5 separate regions of the Homo sapiens genome follow, and regions 1, 2, 3 and 5 are each reported to be linked to region 4. The links are microRNA targets in miRTarBase. Many come from high-throughput screens and were not tested one by one. Region 4 holds a microRNA gene; each other region holds the end of a gene's coding sequence.
What was found. The annotated mature microRNA hsa-miR-215-5p reads AUGACCUAUGAAUUGACAGAC and lies in region 4 at 1,687-1,707, shown strand. An mRNA with a match to its seed (bases 2 to 7 or 8) in the 3' UTR can be bound and repressed. Matches are read on the target gene's strand: a 7mer-m8 pairs with bases 2 to 8, a 7mer-A1 pairs with bases 2 to 7 and ends in A, and an 8mer does both.

Region 1 (4,059 bases), not on the chromosome of region 4:
CTTATAGTTTGAATATCTTTGTTTTAGAAAACAATTTTCATTTACTTTGTTGTGCTTTGTCAAAGGTCACACATATGATAGAAAATCAAGTTATACTTTTAACTTTCATTTTCCATTCACCAGGTCATACAGCAGATGGAACAAAAAAAATTACAACAAGGAATTCCTCCATCAGGGCCAGCTGGAGAATTGAAGTTTGAGCCACGTGTGTAATTTTGTTTGATTATTTATTTAGGAAAATAAATTATTTTATCAATTGAAATCCACATTTATTACAAATATAATTTCAAATCATTAAGATGTTATGTTATTTTTTGTGTATTTTTTGTGGTATTAGAGCAATTTAGATTATAGAAAAATGAAAATGCCTCCAAAAGTTTTATGTAGCAGCAAATTTTAAGTGCTGTATCATTTGTATAATTTGATAACCATATTTATGGTAAAATGATTTATTTCAACTTTATTTGTAATTCTTTCTAATTATATTAATCTTACCAGAGAATATGTTTTTTAAAATTGTGATCTATGATTAGCTAAGCATATTTTTTAAAACAAGTATATTTGTATATGAAGGAACATTTAGAATAAAGGAAGATACTTTTAAAATAAGAACTTTTTTCTTTTTTCCAACAGACATTTAAAGTCTGAAGTCCACCAGAACTTGGAAGAAAGCTGTTAACTCAACATCTATTTCATCTTTTTAGCTCCCTTCCTTTTTCTCTGCTCAATAAATATTTTAAAAGCATATTTGAAATAAAGGGAGATACTTTTTAAATGAAAACACTTTTTTTGGGACACAGATATTAAAGGATTGAAGTTTATCAGAACCAGGAAGAAAACAAACTCACTGTCTGCTCTCTGCTCTCACATTCACACGGCTCTTTTATTTATTTTTTTGTTCTCCTTTAATGATTTAATTAAGTGGCTTTATGCCATAATTTAGTGAAACTATTAGGAACTATTTAAGTGAGAAAACTCTGCCTCTTGCTTTTAAATTAGATTGCTCTCACTTACTCGTAAACATAGGTATTCTTTTATGGGTGCTTATCATTCCTTCTTTCAATAAATGTCTGTTTGATATTAACAATTCTGGAAAGGCCACAGTATTTCCCTGTGTTTCCTGGTAACGTTTTTCTAGTTTTGGCAACCTCAACTGCTAGAAATTCTTCACCTGAATCACTTTTGCTACCACTTCAGGTCATTTTTCATTCTTTTTTATTTTGCTCTATACTTTATCATTTAAGATTAGGTTATGTTACATATAACAGAAAAAACAAAGATAACAGTGGTTTAAACTAAATAGGAGTTTTTCTTCTTACATAAGTCTAGAAGTAGGTGGTGTCCAGGTTCCTATCTTTCTGCTCTGCTATCCTCAGTGCATGATTTTTATCCTCAGATTACCTCACTCTCACTGTTCAAGTTTGCTCCTGGAGGCAGTGGGGAAGGCAAGAAAACTGGACTTTCTCTGCTTGAGTTAGCTTCCCTGAGGCCATTTTCCAGAACCAGCAGCACCTGAACTTATGTTTCGACCAGAACTGGGTCACACTGATGGCCACACCTAGCTGCTAGGGAGGCTGAGAAGTCAATGTGGCAATGTGACCAGCTAAAAGTTGGATTCTTTTACTAAGGAAGAAGGGAAGAGGGAATGTTTGGTAGGCAACTTTGGATTTTAAACTCAGCCAGCCTTGTTGGCTACCTAAATTCTGTGTACCTTCTTCTTCCGAGAGAGAAAACACTCACCCCTCTCTCCCTGAAGAGAAACCACCAGAAATCCAGCCCATTATTGCATACTAGATGAAAGACCATGCTATCTGGAGACAGTCCCCTCCATCATGTTAGGGTGTGGCTCCTTGTGTTCTGGCCACCTACAAACTGAAAGACAAGTTTTCTGCCCTGAGAGCACCAGATGCATAATGCAAAGGTGCAGGAAAACTGACCTTTTAAATTTTTTAGAGACAGGGTCTTACTCTGTTGTCCAGTCTAGAGTACAGTGGTGTGATCATAGCTTACTGCAGCCTTGAACTTCTGGGCTCAAGTGATCCTTCCACCTCAGTCCCCCTAGTAGCTAGGACTACAGGCACATGCCACGAACGCCTGGCTAAACATTTTTTTTTGTAGAGATGGAGTATTGCTATGTTGCTCAGGCTGGTCTTAAACTCCTGGTCTCAAGCAATCTTCTCACCTCAGCCTCCCAAAGCACTGGGATCACTGGTGTGAGCCACCATGCCCAAGATCCCTAAAATTGACCTTTTAGAAAAAGGGAGAAATAGAAATATAGTGGCCACTGATCCATAGCAATTTGAAAGTACCACTTGGCAAAAATAATTAAATCTCTCTGCTATAGTTCATGAATATATTCCTTGGTTTGCCTATCAGGCAACCCCTGATTCACCTTTCTGAGAGGAATTCCTTTACCTAATGTCCTCAGGGGGCCTTGGTTTTACTTTCTTGGAGGTTTTTATTGTACATTAATTTTCAGACACAATCTGAATGGGCATTGGAAAGTATACCCTTCTTGGAGGCTGGGCAGCCTTAGCAGTTTACTTCCTATAATTGTGAGTCTGGGGGCAGGCTTGGGAATTAGAGTATAGATCCGTAACAGCTACAGTCTATTGCAGGCCAGGTTTGGGTTTTTGTTGTTGTTTTGTTCTGTTTCTTGGCCAAGTGGATTCCTAAAACTTTAGTAAGTTTCTGGTCTGTTGTCTTCAGTCATTTACATGGACAGTATTAACCAAGGTAAAATACATTGTTTTTAACAAAGAACCTCATCATTTACTTGCTGGCCTCTGTGTGCTCTCCATCCCCTTTGTTCTTACAGGAATGGTACCTCCTTGAGATCCTTTGAGACTGTAGGCTTGCATGGAATGGCAACAGTCTTAATCTGATCTCTTCCCCTAGGATGGCTCCTATTATTTGGCAGAAAATTCTTAAGGGAAGGTTCTTAAAAAAGGTTGAGAAAGTTTTAGTAGCTCCCTCAGAGCCTTTACTTATAAATGTTTCAGTTTGGAGTACAGTTTTCAATTCTTCAGGGCTCCAGATTTGGGACTTGGTCAATTTATATGGTAGACAAAGAGCAATTCTCTCAGCAAAGCTATTTTTCCCTTGCGTCACTGCAGACTTGTTAATCTTAGTCCAAGTCACATATCTCTTGTAGGGCTTTGCTGAAAAGAGGCAAGAAGCAGCCAACACATGCTAGCACTCTGAAGTTCTACCACCTTCGTCTCTGTGGCAGGAAGTCTCAACCTCACCTTGACTTCTGTTGGCAAGAAGTCTCACTGCCCAAAGCCCTACCTCCTCAACTAAGCCAACCCCAGATTTAGGGCCTTCGACTTGCTGTGCTTTACTTCTAGCTGCCAAATTCTGTATAGGTCAAGATTCTTGGCTGTAAGCAATGAAATCTTCTTTAGCTATTAAACAGAAGGGAATTGATGAATGAGTATATATAGGTCACAGAATCAATGGGAGGGTTGAAGAAACAGATCTAGGCTGAGCTTCTAGGAATTATGTCACAAGAGTAGGCTGCTGAAAGAGCTGCTGCTTTTAGAACAATCAAGAAGCTGCCTGCTGGATTAGGAAGCTGCCTGCTGAACAGTTGCCAGTTCCAGAGCCACACCACCTCTGCCATGCTTTATGCCAGCAAAAATAGATACATCTCTTCCTGCCTCTGTCCCCACGTTACTTGGCTCTGAGTAAAAGTCTCAAGTGAGTGAATCTGATGGACTGGACCAATCATATCTGAAACCCTAGCTGCAAAGGAGGTTGGGAAATATAATGTTCAACTTTCCTACCTCTGTGTGACAGGAATGCATGTTAAAAGCTACCCTAGGCCGGGCATGGTGGCTCACGCCTATAATCCCAGCACTTTGGGAAGCCAAGGTGAGTGGATCACCTGAGGTTAGGAGTTCCAGACCAGCCTGGCCAACATGGTGAAACCCCATCTCTACTAAAAATACAAAAATTAGCTGGGTGTGATGGTGCACACCTATAGTCCCAGCTACTCAAGAGGCTGGGGCAGGAGAATTGCTTGAGCCTGGGAGGTGGAGGTTGCAGTGAGCTGAA
Region 2 (4,059 bases), not on the chromosome of region 4:
GGCATGATCATAGCTCACTGCCACCTTGAACTCCTGGAGCTCAAGGGATCCTCTCATCTCAGCCTCCCAAGTAGCTAGGACTACAGGCATGTGCCACCATGCCCAGCTAATTTTTTAAAATCTTTGTAGAGATGGGGTCTTGCTGTGTTGCCCAAGCTGGTCTTGAACTCCTGGGCTCGGGTAAGCCTCCTGCCTTGGCCTCCCAAAGTGCTGGGATTACAAGGTGAGCCACTATGCCCAGCCCCCAAAAATAAATCTTGTGAGTTAAAAATAAAATTTTAAAGTGATTTTAGAAGACAGATATTATAAAATATCTTGACTTCTTGTATTAAATGAGTTTTCAAATTAAAGCTTCCTCATTTCCTTACTTTTCTGACCGTGGGACTAAAAATGAAACTTTCCCAAAATTAAGCACGGTGGCTCACGCCTGTAATCCCAGCACTTTGGGAGGCCGAGGCAGGCGGATCACCTGAGGTCAGGAGTTCAAGACTAGCCTGACTAACATGCAGAAACCCCGTCTCTACTAAAAAAAATACAAAATTAGCCAGGCGTGGTGGTGCATGCCTGTAGTCCCAGCTACTCGGGAGGCTGAGGCAGGAGAATCGCTTGAACCTGGGAGGCGGAGGTTGTGGTTAGCTGAGATCACGCCATTGCTCTCCAGCCTGGGCAACAAGAGTGAAACTCCATCTCAAAAAACAAAAACAAAAATTAAAACAAAGAAAAAAACAACAACACTCTAAGCACCTCATTTCTCTGGCTCCCAGACCTTTTTGGTCCAGCCTCTCCTCCCACAGCTAACTGCTCTTAATGCCCCTGGTTCTCTCTTACTGGTATGAGCCTGAGCTCAGGAACGCCTGCTCTGGAGCTAGGGTAAGGGGCATTTCAAGGCTGGGCAAGGCTGGGAAGGAAGGGTGGGGTTTGCTGGGTTAAGCTTAGTGGCTTCTGGAGTCAAGACAAACACTGCTCATTGGCAGTGTGACCCTGGGCAAGTTCACCTTCTGAACCTTTCTCCTTTGTAGAGGAAGCCATTTCTACCCTCTGTGGGCTGACAGGAGAATTGCACAAAGGGATATCTATAAACTGCATGTCACTAAAGCAAAGTGCCCTCAACACTCAGCCATCAGAATCAGAGGCTTCTGCTGTTCTATTGCCGCTGGGGATCTTTGCTTGCTGGTGTGTGTGTGTGTGTGTGTGTTTTAATATAGAACTGGAAAGAGACAAAAGAGCTCATGATAAGGCAGGATATGCCAGGAAATCTGTGACCAAGTCAGTGAGAAAGGAGTTGAAACCAGCGGGTAAGTGAGGTTTCTAAGGGGCTCTCTGAGGACCCCTGGAATCTGCCACTCCCCACACCACGGGAGGGAACGACCCGGAATCTTGGCGCTGTGAGGAGAGACACATGTTAGACCTCAGAGTTGCAGTCCCTTTTCATAAGAGAGGAAAAAGTCACCTTTTTGGAGACAGTAGGTTGGAGAGGACACAACAGGACCGTACTCAAATCCATATAAATCTTTTACTTAAAAGTCATATAAAAGAATAAAAAATGCAGATTTCTGAATCAACTGTAGATAAGGAAGCAAATGATGTTGAAAGGTGCCCATTAATTTAAAATTTCATCATAGGAATTTGGGTGACCTTTTGCACTCAGTATTAAAAAAAACCATCAAGTTGCTCTTTGGAACAGTAGCATTTAGGTTTGTTTTTTTTTTTTTTTGTCACACTTGTTTATTTCTTTGGGATGTTGCTGTGTGTCATGGAAGAAACGCTCCCCTGAAAACTGTAACCAAACAAAGTTTGGTTAAAACAAAGTTGGTTCCTTTGTTTTCATGGAAATGTCAGACAACTATGAAAAGCTAAGGAAGCATGTTGAACTGAAGGTCTGGCTTTGGTAAATTAGGCAGAGATGTTCTCAGCAGCAAACAGGTAAAATCTGACATCGAGAAGCATTATTTTAATGTAGGACCAGTTATAATCTTAAAGAACTGACTAGGTTCTAAAATAATAGAACTGAGAAATAGGACTGAGAAATGACCAACATCAAGTATATACGGTACACTTAGCACTTGTTTCTATAGAAAACATTTCAAATCAAGTTCTTTATGATGTGAACCAGATTTTCCAAATGCCTAAACCACTTCTGAGCTTTAAGCAAGGCCTCAGAAATTCAGCGGGTGCCTGGGAGGCTTCATTCACATTCACCTCTAAGGAGAGGCTAAAAGAGGAATTTCCAGATGGCAGCTACTGGCTCAGAACCAGGGGGTCCCTTGCCAAGTCTGTCTCTATGTGGCTCCCGGAATTGCTGAGGTCTCACTTCTCAGAGGGCTTTGATGGAAAATAAAGCAACAGCTGACGCTCACGGGCCTCGGAACTCTGGCCAGGCTCCCTGAGGGGTGCATCCTAGGAGAACTGAAAAATGGGATTGGAGCTTTTGCCTTATCCTTACACCCCAAGTTCTTTGTGTGGCAGAACATCTATGAAAAAATAATAAAATATTGTCTGATATTTCCCTTTACTTCTGGTATTGCTTTTGACCTTCTCAAAACCCACCCCTCCCACCTCTAACAAACCAAAATGGAAAATGACAATTCAGGCAGCTGTTAATTGGCTCACTCTCTCAAGGCAAGCACTGTCTCAAGGCAGTCTCAAGGCAGAGATGACACAGCAAAAAACAGAGGGGGAGAAAAAAGTCTATTATTGGCTTGTGATTTACAAAAGCCAAAGTCCTTTAGATAAAAGGCCAGGAGTCGTACCAACATAGATACCAAATCCAGGAGAACACAGACCAGCGATAAGAGGGACGCTTCCCCATGACCCAGACCAGCCTAAAGCCCCTGTGGGGGCAGCCAGTGGGGAGCTGTCAGACCTTGGACATGGTGGTCTTTGAGAATGGGTCTGCCCTTCTCTCCCTGACCAGTTGGGATAGACACCTGACTGGAATCCTTGACACTGGCAGGTGTTTCTATGAACAGAGAGGACTGTGCCTGTCTTCCTGAATCCCAACCCAGAGTAGAAGCAGTGGAGACATGGATCTGGGTTGAGAAATGGGTTTTCCTGTCCCCCTGTGTCACCCACATCTTCACAAAGGACTTACAGGTGGCTGAGAGATCTGTAGGAATGGAATGGGGCTTGCAGGTGGCCCCAGAAATCTGAGGAGACCAATGACTAAGACCAGATGTGGGTCAGTGGTCATCTTGGCAGGTATCACTGTGGACAGATGACACTGAGGGCCACTCCTCTGACCTTGGGTTGTCAACTGCTACCTGGTAGCCCCACCCCTCCCCTTTCTACCCCTAGACCTTGGCCTCCAGGGAAAAAGTGTGTGTAGGAACTCCCTCTGCCATTTTGAAAAGACAGGAGCTAAAAGCAGTTCCATGAAGGACAGGCGTTTCGTTTCATACCTGAGTTTGTGAAATAAGAGTTGTTCTTGCTACACGTGATTTTTACCTTTCTGTCTTCTCCATTGACTTAGTAATGAGACAGATCAGCACGAGGATAACTTGTAGCCATACACCTGGCAGGTTCTGCAAGTCAGAGAACTGTAACCACATGCTGGGCCTTAGAGCAATCTTAGGGCACCTGCTTTTCTCCTGCCTACCCATTTTATAGAAAAAACAAGAGAGGCTCCTTCCGTGGCTGGTAGCACAGGGCAAAGTAAGGAAAGGGATGTGCCAGCAGTGGGTTTGAATGAGGATCTGGGTGACCAGCGGTGAATGTATGTTGTCTGTTAGTCCAGAATCTACATGCTGGGCACGTTAGGGATCCCTCTGGGGAGGGGCGCCTTTGGCTTGCCTTGTTGGTGTGAGCCGAGCACGCGTGCTTGTTTCAATCCTGACCGCCGGTCAATTTGTGGAACAAGTCCTCATCGAGTGTTTCATTCTGGTCCTTGGAGCGGGTGGACAAGAAAATGTAGCCGCCAATGTACTCGTGCACAATCTTGCAATCTGCACTCAGGCAGGTGAAAGCAGTAAAGACGTTTTGGTCAAACTCGATGACCACCTGGAAGAGGAAGGCACAGAGAAGCTTAAACTCTGACAAGGAATGATGAAAAAAAAAGTGCTT
Region 3 (4,059 bases), not on the chromosome of region 4:
AATACATGTATAGAATTAAAGGGAGAAGTCATAGAATTCTGAAAACAGACTTACGGAAGTTCATGTATTCTGATTAAGTACTGTAGCCTGTTTAAGCAAATTTTTAAGGATAAAACACTTATTTTTTTTTAGTTAATGCCAGAAATGCACACACATTTTAAACCGATTTCCAAAAACGATTTTATCTTTTCTTCCTTGGCCAGGCTGAAACACTTTTCCAGGAAATCTGCCCCAATGAAGATTTCTGTCCCCCTCCACCAAATCCTGAAGACATTATCCTTGATGGAGACAGTTTACAGCCAGAGGCTTCAGAATCCAGTGCCATACCAGAGGCTAACTCGGAGACTTTCAAGGAAAGCACAAACCTTGGAAACCTAGAGGAGTCCTCTGAATAATGGATATACACCAAACTGGATACCCAACTTTGGAAATTCTGACTGGTCTCAGAGTCTACTTGATAGAAGGACTGTTTGAGAAATGTTAGAAAGCAGCAGCAATTATAAGGCAAAATAGGTAATAGAAATCCAAAAGGGGATTTTCCTTATAGAGGACATTCCAAGAACACACAACACTTATAAAGCACATTGACTTGCTCATTTTAAATACCAAACTTGTGTGACTAGCAGATGAAAATTATAAATCAATTGATTCTCAGGAATGTAACTGTGGATATGAAAGTGATCCTATGCATTGTTAATAATTCCATGGTCTTAGGACAATTTTGCTTACCACTTTGGATCTTTGTTTGAAAGCCACATTTTCAGAACCAGCTCATGTATTTTCTTTGGTTATTTGAATTTTATTTTCTTTATGGACAAGAGCATCATAACATAATGATAAAAACATATAGAAAAACTAAAGTATCATGATCTAGATAGAAGCCTGTATTTGGAATACAGGTTTGTTTTGCTTTCTATGTTGAGAAGCATTGAAAATGCTAATATAAAGGTGTTTAGACATTTTTACGAATAAGTCAGTAGTGTTTTTTAGTATCAGTAGTGATATTTGTTTGTAAATTATTTACATATTGGGAAAGGTCAATAATGAAGAAATGAAAGAATGGAAGGAAAGGTGTGGATAGGCTCATTGGTATTTGAATATTCTGTCTGTCAAGTAACTAGAGTATTAGGCTAATTGTCTACAGACCTAATTTAATCCTGGCTGTCCTACTGATGATATTTGGTAAATTGTTTAACTTCTGAGCCTACGTTTCTCCATATATAAAGTGGAAATAGTATTACTATGCCTACTATATGAGAATGGTTATGAAGACAATGCAATGCCATGTTTAGAATCGGTTTGCCAGAAGAAAATTGTTTTAGAATTTTCCCATTGACTTGATGAATCTCAAAAGTCTCACGCAGGAAATAATTGCTTGCTGTCAGTCAACTTCCAAACAAAATAGATCACAGTGTTTTTATTGCATTAAGCTTTTTAAATGAAAATTTCTTTTTTAAAGTAGTATTTTATAGTCTTACAGACCAGTAAAAATAGTAACAAGTAGAATTGTGGTTTTGAAATATTACTAAGGAAAACACTCTATAAATTGTTTTATTCCTTTTCTGGTAGGTAAACCTGCAACCACCAAGGACTCCAAATTGTGTATGACAGTTGGTAAGCCCTAATATACACTACATAAAAACGTTAGGGCTGCCTGTAATCCCAGCACTTTGGGAAGCTGAGGTGGGTAGATCACTTGAGGTCAGGAGTTCGAGACCAGCCTGGCCAACATGGCGAAACCCTGTCTCTACTAAAAATACAAAATTTTAGCTGGGTGTTATGGTGGGCACCTGTAATCCCAGCTACTTTGAAGATGAGGTAGCAGACTCACTTGAACCAGGGAGGCGGAGGTTGCAGTGAGCCAAGATTTTGCCACTGCACTCCAGCCTGGGTGACAGAGCAAGACTCTGTCTCACAAAAAAAAAAAAAGGGGGCTGTACATAGGCAGCAAACTAAGCTGCAGTGATGTTGCCTATATTTAAATTTTCTCAAATGGCCAAGCTCTGATGGTCTACTTTATTTGAGCAATAGTTGAGACTTATAATTGCCTATAAATAAACAAACAAATGAACTATTTGTTTTTTTTTCTCACAACATCTGGCCTATATTGTCTGTCAGGAAGCCATGGCTCCAATGTAAAGTACATAGTTCTTACATACTTCAACTGCAGCTGGTCCCTGACCTCACCAGGTTTCAGAGATGTTCTTAAAGGAAGCCAGCTGTGGCAGGTCACAGATTCATGGGAAATGGAAAGAACCAAGGAATATAGCTCTTGCCTCACCTTTCTACCCACTGCAGATATAGTTCAAGCCAGAGTAATGGAAGAACTTAACTTACTAGCCTCTCAGGCTGCTCCTATCCCTACCTCCCAGTGTACAGCCCCTCCCCATCTCTTTAGTCCCCTTTCCCTCACTTCCCCTTTTATAATGTCACACAAATCAGGGACAGTAGGATCACATTATAACCTACTTTGTCATAGGGATTCGATTTTTCTTATATCAAATCATGTTTCCTGAAACCCAGCTGGGGCATATGCACTCAATGTCTAATACATACTTATTAATGTACCGGATATTGGCCTTGCCCCTGGATATCAGCAATATATTATAAAAGGTTCCAGTAGATGAGACGATTGAGTCTGAATACAATTGCAGTAAATTGTGCCAATAAAGATATTGTACTGTTACGGTCTTAGAGTTAAAGCCGCTTGAATGCAGCATGCACATTCATGTAAACAGACAATCAGGGTAGGCCTAGAATAACCACAAAAATTCTATTGGCCTTACTGCAGCCACCTATATGTAGAACAATGGAGGAGATAGTTTGTGGTCCATTATTGTACCCTGTTTCATCCATTAGCATCAGAATCTCTCTTTCAGGTCATTTATTAAATATGATTGAAATGTTTAAAAGTTCCTGAACATGATTCATGATGATTAAAATATCATACAACTGATAAAAGACTTTAAGAACTTTATATATTTCCTGTTGCCTCAAAATGTAACAGAAATTATTCTTAGAGCTTTGATTTTAGCTATCCTAATTACTGCAAATAAATATTTGTTCTTATAGTTTTAAATCAAAAAGAAAAGTCTTGTTATAAAACCTTAAGCTTGAAATCATATTAATAAAATATATTGTACATAGTGGAAAATTTTCAGTAGCTAATTTAAAATTTCAGAAAATGCTATTAAAGAATTTTGATTCAAGTATTTAAACTGTTTAGTTATGCATGCTTCTTATTAACCGAAAATGATAATACCATTTAGTTTAGTGATCAGTATGAGAAGCAATACCTAATCCTATGTTGCTATTGTATTTTTTCCTAGTTGGTGTGCCTGCTCAGAAAAACATATACTGTATGTGTATACATACCTGTGTATATATAAAAGGTCAATTTATATATTTTTCTATAGGAAAATGGAGTAACAAGTTCCCTATCTCCCATATTTATTTGTCCATAGTAAAATGGCCACATTGATGATAATTTCTAGAACTAGTTTCTGAGATTGTCAGCCCTTTGTCTAAAATAATGGCAGTATTAATGATTGACTTCTGTCACTGCCATAGTTACCTGGATTGTCAGCCTTGGTAGCCTTTGTCTAAAGTCCTAAAGAGTTCCAAAAAAAATGTGTTGAAATTTAATTGCTAAATAGTGGTTGGTGATTCTTTACAGTAGGAATTGTAATAATTTTCTTGCAAATAAGTTATTTACTGCTATTGATATTGAATAATTTGTCTTTTATTCAGATATATTTCAAAAAGCATGAATATATGATTATTCATAAATTGTATACTTTACCAGTAAGTTTTCAGAGGAAATAAAGACTTTTAAATCCTTTTCAGTCATGGTGTCATATTTTGTAATACTTGCATCTTTTATATATGCCAAGAATTTGAAGATTGCCTTTAACCTGATTTATGTTTTAATATTAGTCTAGTATGTAAATACTTAATTGTCAAGCTGTATATTTGGTTTTGTTTTTAGGCATCTGCCAACTGTGCTAAGTTTGTGAGAAAGGCAATGAAATAATATAGGGGCATGAGCTACTTTGCAAA
Region 4 (4,066 bases):
TTATAATGAAACCAAGATAATACTTAAAAGATTTCTTAAATAATTTTCTGTTTCCTAAAAAAATTTTTAAACAATTTTCTAACTATTTCCTTGTGATATTTAATATTCTTCAGAAAAAAATGCAGGAAAATTCCTAATTTGTCTGAAATTTAAGAATTCTACCTTCATTTCTTTAACATTGTATACTTAACACAAACTCATAGTTAACCTATAACCCAAAGATCAGTATAAACGACTGCTGATAAAAGTGGGTGAAACCACTTACCAGTATGTAATCTATATGCTTCCATCTTAATGCTTTACTTCATAAAGCAATAAATCCATCATAAAACCTTGTACTTTACTCAAAGGCCTTATCTCAACACATGCATTACGTGTCCCTTCTTAGGTTTCAATCAGTGAAAATCCACTAGGTAGCATGAGCAACTATGACATCAGCCAATCATTCTGAACTTCGATATCAACCGGAATGAGGCTTATTTAGCGTGTTATGGACATTAAGCAGCATTAAGATTACTAAAGCAACAAAGAAACGACTGCTGTCATCCCACTGTCTTCTGTGTTTTGCCTTTATAAGCAAAAATATTGAAGATTATTAAGACAACTTTTCTTCTGTAACTTACTGGAAGAAGAATGAGGTAAGAGGCTAAATGTTTCACATTTGTTTACTAAATTTAATTCTAGAACAATGTGAAATTTGGAAGGGGAAATTCTATTTTTAGTTTAATCCTAGATTTATGTTTTAAAGCTGACAGAAAACCATTTTGAAGAAATTTTTCTTTATTTAATGAACATAAATTTTTTGAACAAAAGGTTTATTATTGTTAACTGAGAAAAAATTTGAGGTAGCTAAAGTTAACACTCAAATTATATTGGAAATTCCTTGGCTATTTTTACTAAATTTCTCATAATTTCCAGAAGTTAGGGGCTAAGTTTCACTATGTTAACTATAGCATTAATAGCATGAAAGTGATTATAACTGTTTGAAATGATGAAAGAAATTTAACCAACTTCTTTTCCTTCCCAGGTAGCCAGTGTTTCTACATTTTATCTTTTTTATGCTAAAAATTATTTCTTCTGTTTTTATTGACTAGTAACAGATTTCAACCCAAATTCTAATGGCATTATCTCACAGATTCAAAAAATGACCAATGACAGTAAAGTCAGAAATGGAATTATTTCTTGATAAAATACAAATATGATCTAAAATGCAAATGACACTATTAATTCAAATCAAAATAAAACATCAGCGTTTCAAATCTACCAGTCCCTAAACTTATTTAGAACATGAATAAATCGAGACTTTCTTCTGTGAAACAAGTATACTTAGAGATATCGTACAGCTCCCATGATGAGCAAAAGGAATCTCCTTATATGTTTAATGGTGTTATCAAGTGTAACAGCAACTCCATGTGGACTGTGTACCAATTTCCAGTGGAGATGCTGTTACTTTTGATGGTTACCAACTTGCTACAATATAAAGGTATAATAAAGAAAGACAGAAAATTGTGGTCACTTGGACTCTCATTTGATTCCAGCAGAAAAAAAGATTTTCAGCCTGTTTTATAAAATTAACAAATGATTAAGAATTAATATCAATTTTCTTAAATTCAAGTTTTGTAACACCAAAAAGATCCAATAATGGAAGAGGATTAAAGTCATCATTCAGAAATGGTATACAGGAAAATGACCTATGAATTGACAGACAATATAGCTGAGTTTGTCTGTCATTTCTTTAGGCCAATATTCTGTATGACTGTGCTACTTCAATATCAGAAATCGACTAACACCACGCAACCAACGCAATGGCAGGTACACAGAAGATAATCTGTAACACTACCATGTAAATGTATTGAGTAAATAAAACATAAATATACCTAATGAAAACTTGTGTTTTTCTGACAAAGCTCATATTTATTTAACCTAACTTACTGACCAGTCAACCTATGTACCATTTAATTATCAGGATGTATCAATTAAACCAGTTTGCTATATTTACTAATACATACATATGATCCACCTCAGAGTCCAGAGGGCTATTCCACCAAGGAATCCCCACCCACCTCAATCACTTCAGTGAAATTCCCTAGACATCTTGCTCTCTAAATAGTGAAAAGAAGAGTAGCCGGGCACAGTGGCTCACGCCTGTAATCCCAGCACTTTGGGAGGCTGAGGCGGGCGGATCACTTGAGGTCGGGAGTTTGAGACCAGCCTGACCAACATGGAGAAACCCCGTCTCTACTAAAAAATATATATATATAAAATTAGCCGGGCGTGGTGGCACATGCCTCTAATCCCAACTACTCAGGAGGCTGAGGCAGGAGAATCACTTGAACCTGGGAGGCGGAGATTGCAGTGAGCTGAGATCGTGCCACTACACTCCAGCCTAGGAAACAAGAGTGAAACTCCATCTCAAAAAAAAAAAAAAAAAAAAAAAAGAAGAGGAGACAATGACATGGCTTATAAAACTTTCCAAAAAAAAAAAAAACTTTCCAGTGTGAAATTTTAAACAAATGTTTGTGGAAACTCGTCTCAGGTATAATCACTTTAATTCTTTTTCTTTTAAACTAAGTCTGAGGCTGGGCATGGTAGCTCATGCCTGTAATCTCAGCACTCTGGGAGGCAGAGGTGGATGGATCCTTTGTGGCCAGGAGTTCGAGACCAGCCTCGTCAACGTGGCAAGAGCCCATCTCTACTAAAAATACAAGAATTAGCCAAGTCAGTGGCGCGTGCCTGTAGTCCCAGCTACTCAGGAGGCTGAGGAGGGAGAATCACTTGAACCTGGGAGGTGGAGGTTGTAGTGAGCCAAGATCACATCACTGCACTCCAGCCTGGGTGACAGAGTGAGACTGTATCAAAAATAAAATAAAATAATCTGAACTGGACAGAATTTACATTAATTCTTAATGTAAGTATTAAGATATTAGTAGTTTACATCTGACCAAGCTCTGTAAGAACACCACAGCAACAATATTTAGATTATTCCTAAAGTCTTACCTCAGATCCAACTTATAATAATATTGAAATAGCTTTCCAATGACTTTCCAGTCTCTAGCCTCTACTTTCTTTTCCTAAAACATACTCTTACTCCTCAAGTCTACTTAAAAGTTTAAACTTCTTAATAGCATAATTTAGAAAAAATTCCATTCACCAAATTAAAAAAAATTGCTCAAAGAAAATGAAAATCTGGAATGTGTTCCTAAAAGGAAGAATTAACATTCCCCTCTCCACATCTGTGAAAAACAGCAACAACACTCAAAGCCTCCCTAATATTACTAGAAGATAAACTAGCTAGACTATTATCTCATTAAAAACAGGGGCCATGTCAGTCTTGTTCACTGTAGCAACTAGCAGTTCCTAGCACTGACACGTACTAAGTGCTTGACAATGTGTTCTGTTTTGTTTCGTTCTGAAGAGACAGTGTCTTGCTCTGTCATCCAGGCTGGAGTGCATTGGCATGATCATAGCTCACTATAACCTCAAACTCCTGGACTTGAGCGATCCTCTCGCCTTAGCCTCCCAAGTCGCTGGGACTACAGGCCCACACTACCACACCAGCTAATTTTTAAATTTTTCTGTAGAGATGGGGTCTCACTGTAATCTTGAACAGCTGGCTTCAAGCAATCCTGCCGCCTTGGCCTCCCAAAGTGCTGGGATTACAGGCATGAGCCACTGTGCCCACATAACAATGTTTCTTAAGTGAATACATGAATAGCTCATCATCTATGGAATACTGTGCTTTACACCAAGTAGTTTGCATTTATTATTTAGTATTCATAACAGTCTACCTGCAACCATTGCTTTTCCTATTTTATAGAGGAGCCAGAGGCTAAGTAAATTCCTCAGTCTCACACACAGTGAATGGCAAAGCCTGGGTTCAAATTCAGTTGCCATTCTCCAAAGCTCACAGATTTCCAAGCAACTTCTCTTTCGAAAAGCACAAAAGGGAGCTGTTCGGGATAAAAGAATTATTCTAAGACACAATTATGATAGTGGCTGTAAAACTTAACAAATTTACTATAAATCACTTATAATAAATGAATTTTTCTTTTTTAATTTTTTTGAG
Region 5 (4,059 bases), not on the chromosome of region 4:
GCTGTTAAAATGCAGATTCTCAGGATTCTACCCTCAGACATTCTGAGTCAGTGGGGGCCCTGGAATCTGCATTTTAACATTACTACAGGAGATTCCTATGCAGGTGCGTGGTCTATAGACCATACTTTTCAAAACGTTCATCCATGACTTGTTAAGGAAAGAGTATTTTTCACATAGAAGTGAAAATCCTATATAGTATAGAATTTAGGACTGCAAGTGATCTCTCCCTTGAACACACACACACACACCTTACACCTTTATAAACATTCACATTATGTCCTGTACTTTATAATACAGTTTGTGTGCACTCATCTTGTCTTCTCTCTCAGATTTTTGAGAATGGGATCCAAGTCTTTATGTAGCCTAGTGCTCCAAAGTTGTGAAATAAAATTATGTGTGATAGAAACCAAAGCATATGGTTCAAAAGTTACTTTCTTTGGCTTAGGGAGTTGGTTTTCTCTGCCAACTATGTAAATTCTTAGTCATTCCACCTCCCCTTCCCGCAAAGCTTAGCTATGTGCAAGCAACTGTAACACTGCCTGCTAAGTCTAGAGAGGGGCTGCTGTTTTATTTTTAAATACATATATAAATCACTTCTGGTAGCTTTCTATGCCTTTCCCAGGACCTCTGATGGGCCCTTTCCTCTGTGAGTTTTAAACTGAAAAAAACATCTGAAAAAGCAGCACAAGCGGTTGAGATAAACATCCCAGAGGGTTTTCCACATTACGTAAATTTTCAAGTGTGATGTGAAGGGACCCGTGAGGTATAGTGGCAGCTCTACGCCACCGCCTGGCGGCAACATGCTTCATGACATCCCAACCCCACCCCTGCATCCCCGGGCTCTTAGGGACGCTCATCCTATGCAGGAGCTCATATGTGTGTGTCCCCAGCAGCGCCAAATCCAGGGCATCTACAAATATTTGCTGGTATGAGTGGCAGGAACTAAAAACACACAGCTCGAATTTTGATGTCTTCTGCCCAACTGAGGGTCACTGGTTCTTTCAATTCTGTAACTTTCTAAGATTTTGCAGCACAGAGCTTTTTGATTGACGCACAGATCAGTCAAAAGGCAAATGTGAAAGACAGCCTATACTCAAAGCATAACTCTAATAGCACAAAATACACATGCCTAAGTCATCACTGGCAAAGCTCCAAAGCTTTTGAGAAAGATCATTATACCCATCCACAGGGCCACTCACCCCCACCCAAACCTGAAACACTTAGAATAGGTCAGGGCTAGCATGAAAGTGATTGAGTCCCAGAGGTATAGCTCAATGACTTGGCCTAAAGAGCAGAGAGAAAAGAGAACTGAGTAAAGGTTTACCAGTGTGAAGGATGCTCACATAGGCCTCCAGGGACTCCACATCCACTGAGATTAGGAGACAAAATAACCCCAGATGGCGGGGATGGGGGTGGCAAAAGTTCTTTCAGTAAACATAAAGAACTTCCTAGGAAGTACCTGGAATCTTCTTTAGGGGTTCACTAGAAACAAATTATCTTTAGTTGGGAATAAATGATGGCCCTGCCCAAGGTTGGGGGTGGGGAACACACTTGATGGTATTTTGGGGTCCCTTCCAACTTTAGATGTAGAGTCTTGTTGAACAGTCCCTATCAATAGGCAAGATGGGATAATGTGAATAAAAGCAAAAACCAAGTTACTTGTTAGACTTGGACACAAACGACTTCACTCGTGTATAAAGCTATCACAGTGACTGCATCTACCTCTGGGATTTCAAGTTCCCTGATGACAGAAGAATCCTTTAATGGAAGCTGCATGCTGGGTTAATGGTCAGGCTGTGAGTGGAAATTCTGAGATCAATAGGCCTAAATTCGGAAAATCAAGGCTGCACCTAAAACCTAATGGTCTGATCAGAGCACCAAATACTTATTGTTCTTTCTTCTTCTCCCTGCCAGGCCATTAATTGATTCACACACTATTTTTCCTAGAAGTTAATGCCATCATTACATGCACCTTTGGTAAGAGGTTAGAAGTGACAAATTGTTCACAGAAAATCTCATGCAAGATGGGTTTGAGGCAATCTAGACTCCACCTCAAAAACAGCTGCATTTCAAAAATCACTACTGAGGTCCACCCATAGGTCAAGTCTCATGCGTGCTTAAGTCTTTACCCCACTGGGATTACTAATTGGATCAAACCTAATTCAGAGTTACAGGCATTTTGTTTTAGGGGAAAGTCTGAATTATATGTTTTTAAAATACAAATTAGTTCTTTCCTACAGCAATGCTTACTGCCCTGAGCACTGCAGTAAAACTTAAGATTAGGGAATTACTCCCTTGTATGGGGCTTTTATGAAACAGAAAAGCCCAAGGAAAGTATCAAGAAAATTAAGAAAGCCTTAAGAAAATAAATCAGTCAACAAAATTGTATCTTAAATACAATCAAAACTTCATGTTTAATAGGGATTCATCTGTTTCCCATACTTTTTACATGTTCAGTTCAGACAGAACTCATGGAAGAAAAGACTTTTCTGTGAGATAGAACAGACCATCTGCTTGACCGGATGGCTCTGAGGGACAGCCAAACTCCCAATGGCCAAAGGGCTGTGAGGAAGGGCAACACATATCAGAAGAATTTTCAGCAAGGGCTGAAACACAGTAAGGTTAGCCACAAAATGGAATGAGAGAAGCCCTAACCCAATGGGAGTTTGCCTAATTTTAATGAACCCAAACTCTAACATTGTACTGGAAAAGCAGCATTAAAATCCAGCCTGATTATCACAATTTACAGAATTTCTCACCAGAGGCCCACAGGTGAAAAAGCTGCTTACTCTAAAGCCCTTAGAACCGTATTGTGAACTGCGCATGCGAGGGATCTAGGTTGCGTGCTCCTTATGAGACTCTAATGCCTGATGATCTGAGGTGGAAGTTTCATCCTCCACCACCACCCCGTCCATGGAAAAACTGTGTTCCACAAAACTGGTCCCTGGTGCCAAAAAGGTTAGGGACTGCTGCTTTAGAATATAAGAAACAACTCAAGCAGCCAACGGGTCTGGAGTTAACACTTCCAGCCCTCCCCTTTGTACACACTCAACACTTCTTGCTGAACTGGCCGTTAATAACCACTTGTGAAATCCCTCCCCACACCTGCACTTAGGCGTTTGTCTCTTCCTACCTTCCTTTACTGAGTAGTGGCAAAATAATAGGAGAGTGGAAGATGGTGATGGGCAATGAAGAGGGACCTATTTCTGAAGAGGAGATGTTTTAAAGATATTTTATTTTTCAATACCAGTAATGACTGAAAATTAAAGAATTAAAGCAGGAAGCAAAACAAAAACAAACAAGAAACCCAAAACTTGCAACCTAAACTCTCCGGGAAAAAAAAAATTGCTATAAATGTTAAAAGACTTAAAGAGAACATTGACAATGCAGCCCTGATGTACCTAATCATACTTCAAACTGCTGGATGTTTTAAGCTGAGAATCTCCCCAGTGCCTTTCTAGTGCTCTAAAATCATCTCCCAAACAGATGAGAAATGAAACAAACAGGTCTCCCTTCTTGAGTACATAATTTTTATAAATTGCGTCGGACCCACAGTGAATGTATTTTAGAGAGTTTCACCAAAACTATCAAAGATCAAATGGCAGCAAAAGATCAGGGAAAGAAGGTAGAAAAACTATGCAGTCACAGAGCTAACCCGCAAGCTGCCCTTAGTCCTATACACCTGAAATCAAATCCATAGCCAATGGTGAGGAAGACCACATCAGAGGTTAGCTGCATGACAGCACAGCTGGGTCCTATCTCCCTGCCAGGGGTCTCAACTGTAACTCGCGCTCCAACTGCTCTGCAGTCAGGGTGCCCTGGATGGCTTCACAGCCTGGATTGAACACAGAGTAGGCGCTCTTCTCTCCCTCTTTCTTCTCTTCAGGGCCTCGTGTCCCGACGTACATCCAATAGAACAAGGACAGGACAAAATATGCCAGGCCAAATTCCAGTTCCACAAACAGTCCCAGCAGGACCAACCAGAGAAGAACCTTCAAGAAGGTGATATTGGTCAGGAAAGACTGGTCCCAGCACGACGGCAGAGGAATGGCTGTGTTC

Region 1: the mRNA of NUCB2 is a reported target of hsa-miR-215-5p. The part of its 3' UTR that is shown has no 7-base or 8-base seed match.
Region 2: the mRNA of FERMT1 is a reported target of hsa-miR-215-5p. Seed matches in the 3' UTR shown: 7mer-A1 at 2,528-2,534.
Region 3: miRTarBase lists CHM as a target of hsa-miR-215-5p. Seed matches in the 3' UTR shown: 7mer-A1 at 1,035-1,041 and 7mer-A1 at 3,391-3,397.
Region 5: the mRNA of SAYSD1 is a reported target of hsa-miR-215-5p. The part of its 3' UTR that is shown has no 7-base or 8-base seed match.

What each region holds. Positions count from the first base shown.
Region 1 is chr11:17,330,779-17,334,837 of GRCh38, forward strand. NUCB2 (nucleobindin 2) reads left to right here. Exons shown (of 14, transcript NM_005013.4): 13 at 124-205; 14 at 634-1,433. The coding sequence ends at 641. Among named protein-coding and RNA genes, the nearest start is that of NCR3LG1, 19 kb to the right of the region's middle.
Region 2 is chr20:6,073,351-6,077,409 of GRCh38, forward strand. FERMT1 (FERM domain containing kindlin 1) reads right to left here. Exons shown (of 15, transcript NM_017671.5): 15 at 1,495-3,996. The coding sequence ends at 3,823. Among named protein-coding and RNA genes, the nearest start is that of LRRN4, 21 kb to the left of the region's middle. RefSeq lists a silencer at 935-1,084.
Region 3 is chrX:85,860,966-85,865,024 of GRCh38, reverse strand. CHM (CHM Rab escort protein) reads left to right here. Exons shown (of 15, transcript NM_000390.4): 15 at 204-3,845. The coding sequence ends at 395. Among named protein-coding and RNA genes, the nearest start is that of MIR1321, 27 kb to the right of the region's middle.
Region 4 is chr1:220,115,557-220,119,622 of GRCh38, reverse strand. MIR215 (microRNA 215) reads left to right here and starts at 1,661; the gene lies at 1,661-1,770. All of the region lies in intron 12 of IARS2 (isoleucyl-tRNA synthetase 2, mitochondrial), which reads right to left. It overlaps MIR194-1 (microRNA 194-1), which reads left to right and starts at 1,382; the gene lies at 1,382-1,466. It overlaps LOC124904515 (a long non-coding RNA gene), which reads left to right and starts at 510. Exons shown (of 2, transcript XR_007066883.1): 1 at 510-638; 2 at 1,740-1,881.
Region 5 is chr6:39,101,677-39,105,735 of GRCh38, forward strand. It overlaps SAYSD1 (SAYSVFN motif domain containing 1), which reads right to left. Exons shown (of 2, transcript NM_018322.3): 2 at 2,387-4,059. The coding sequence ends at 3,756. Among named protein-coding and RNA genes, the nearest start is that of SAYSD1, 11 kb to the right of the region's middle.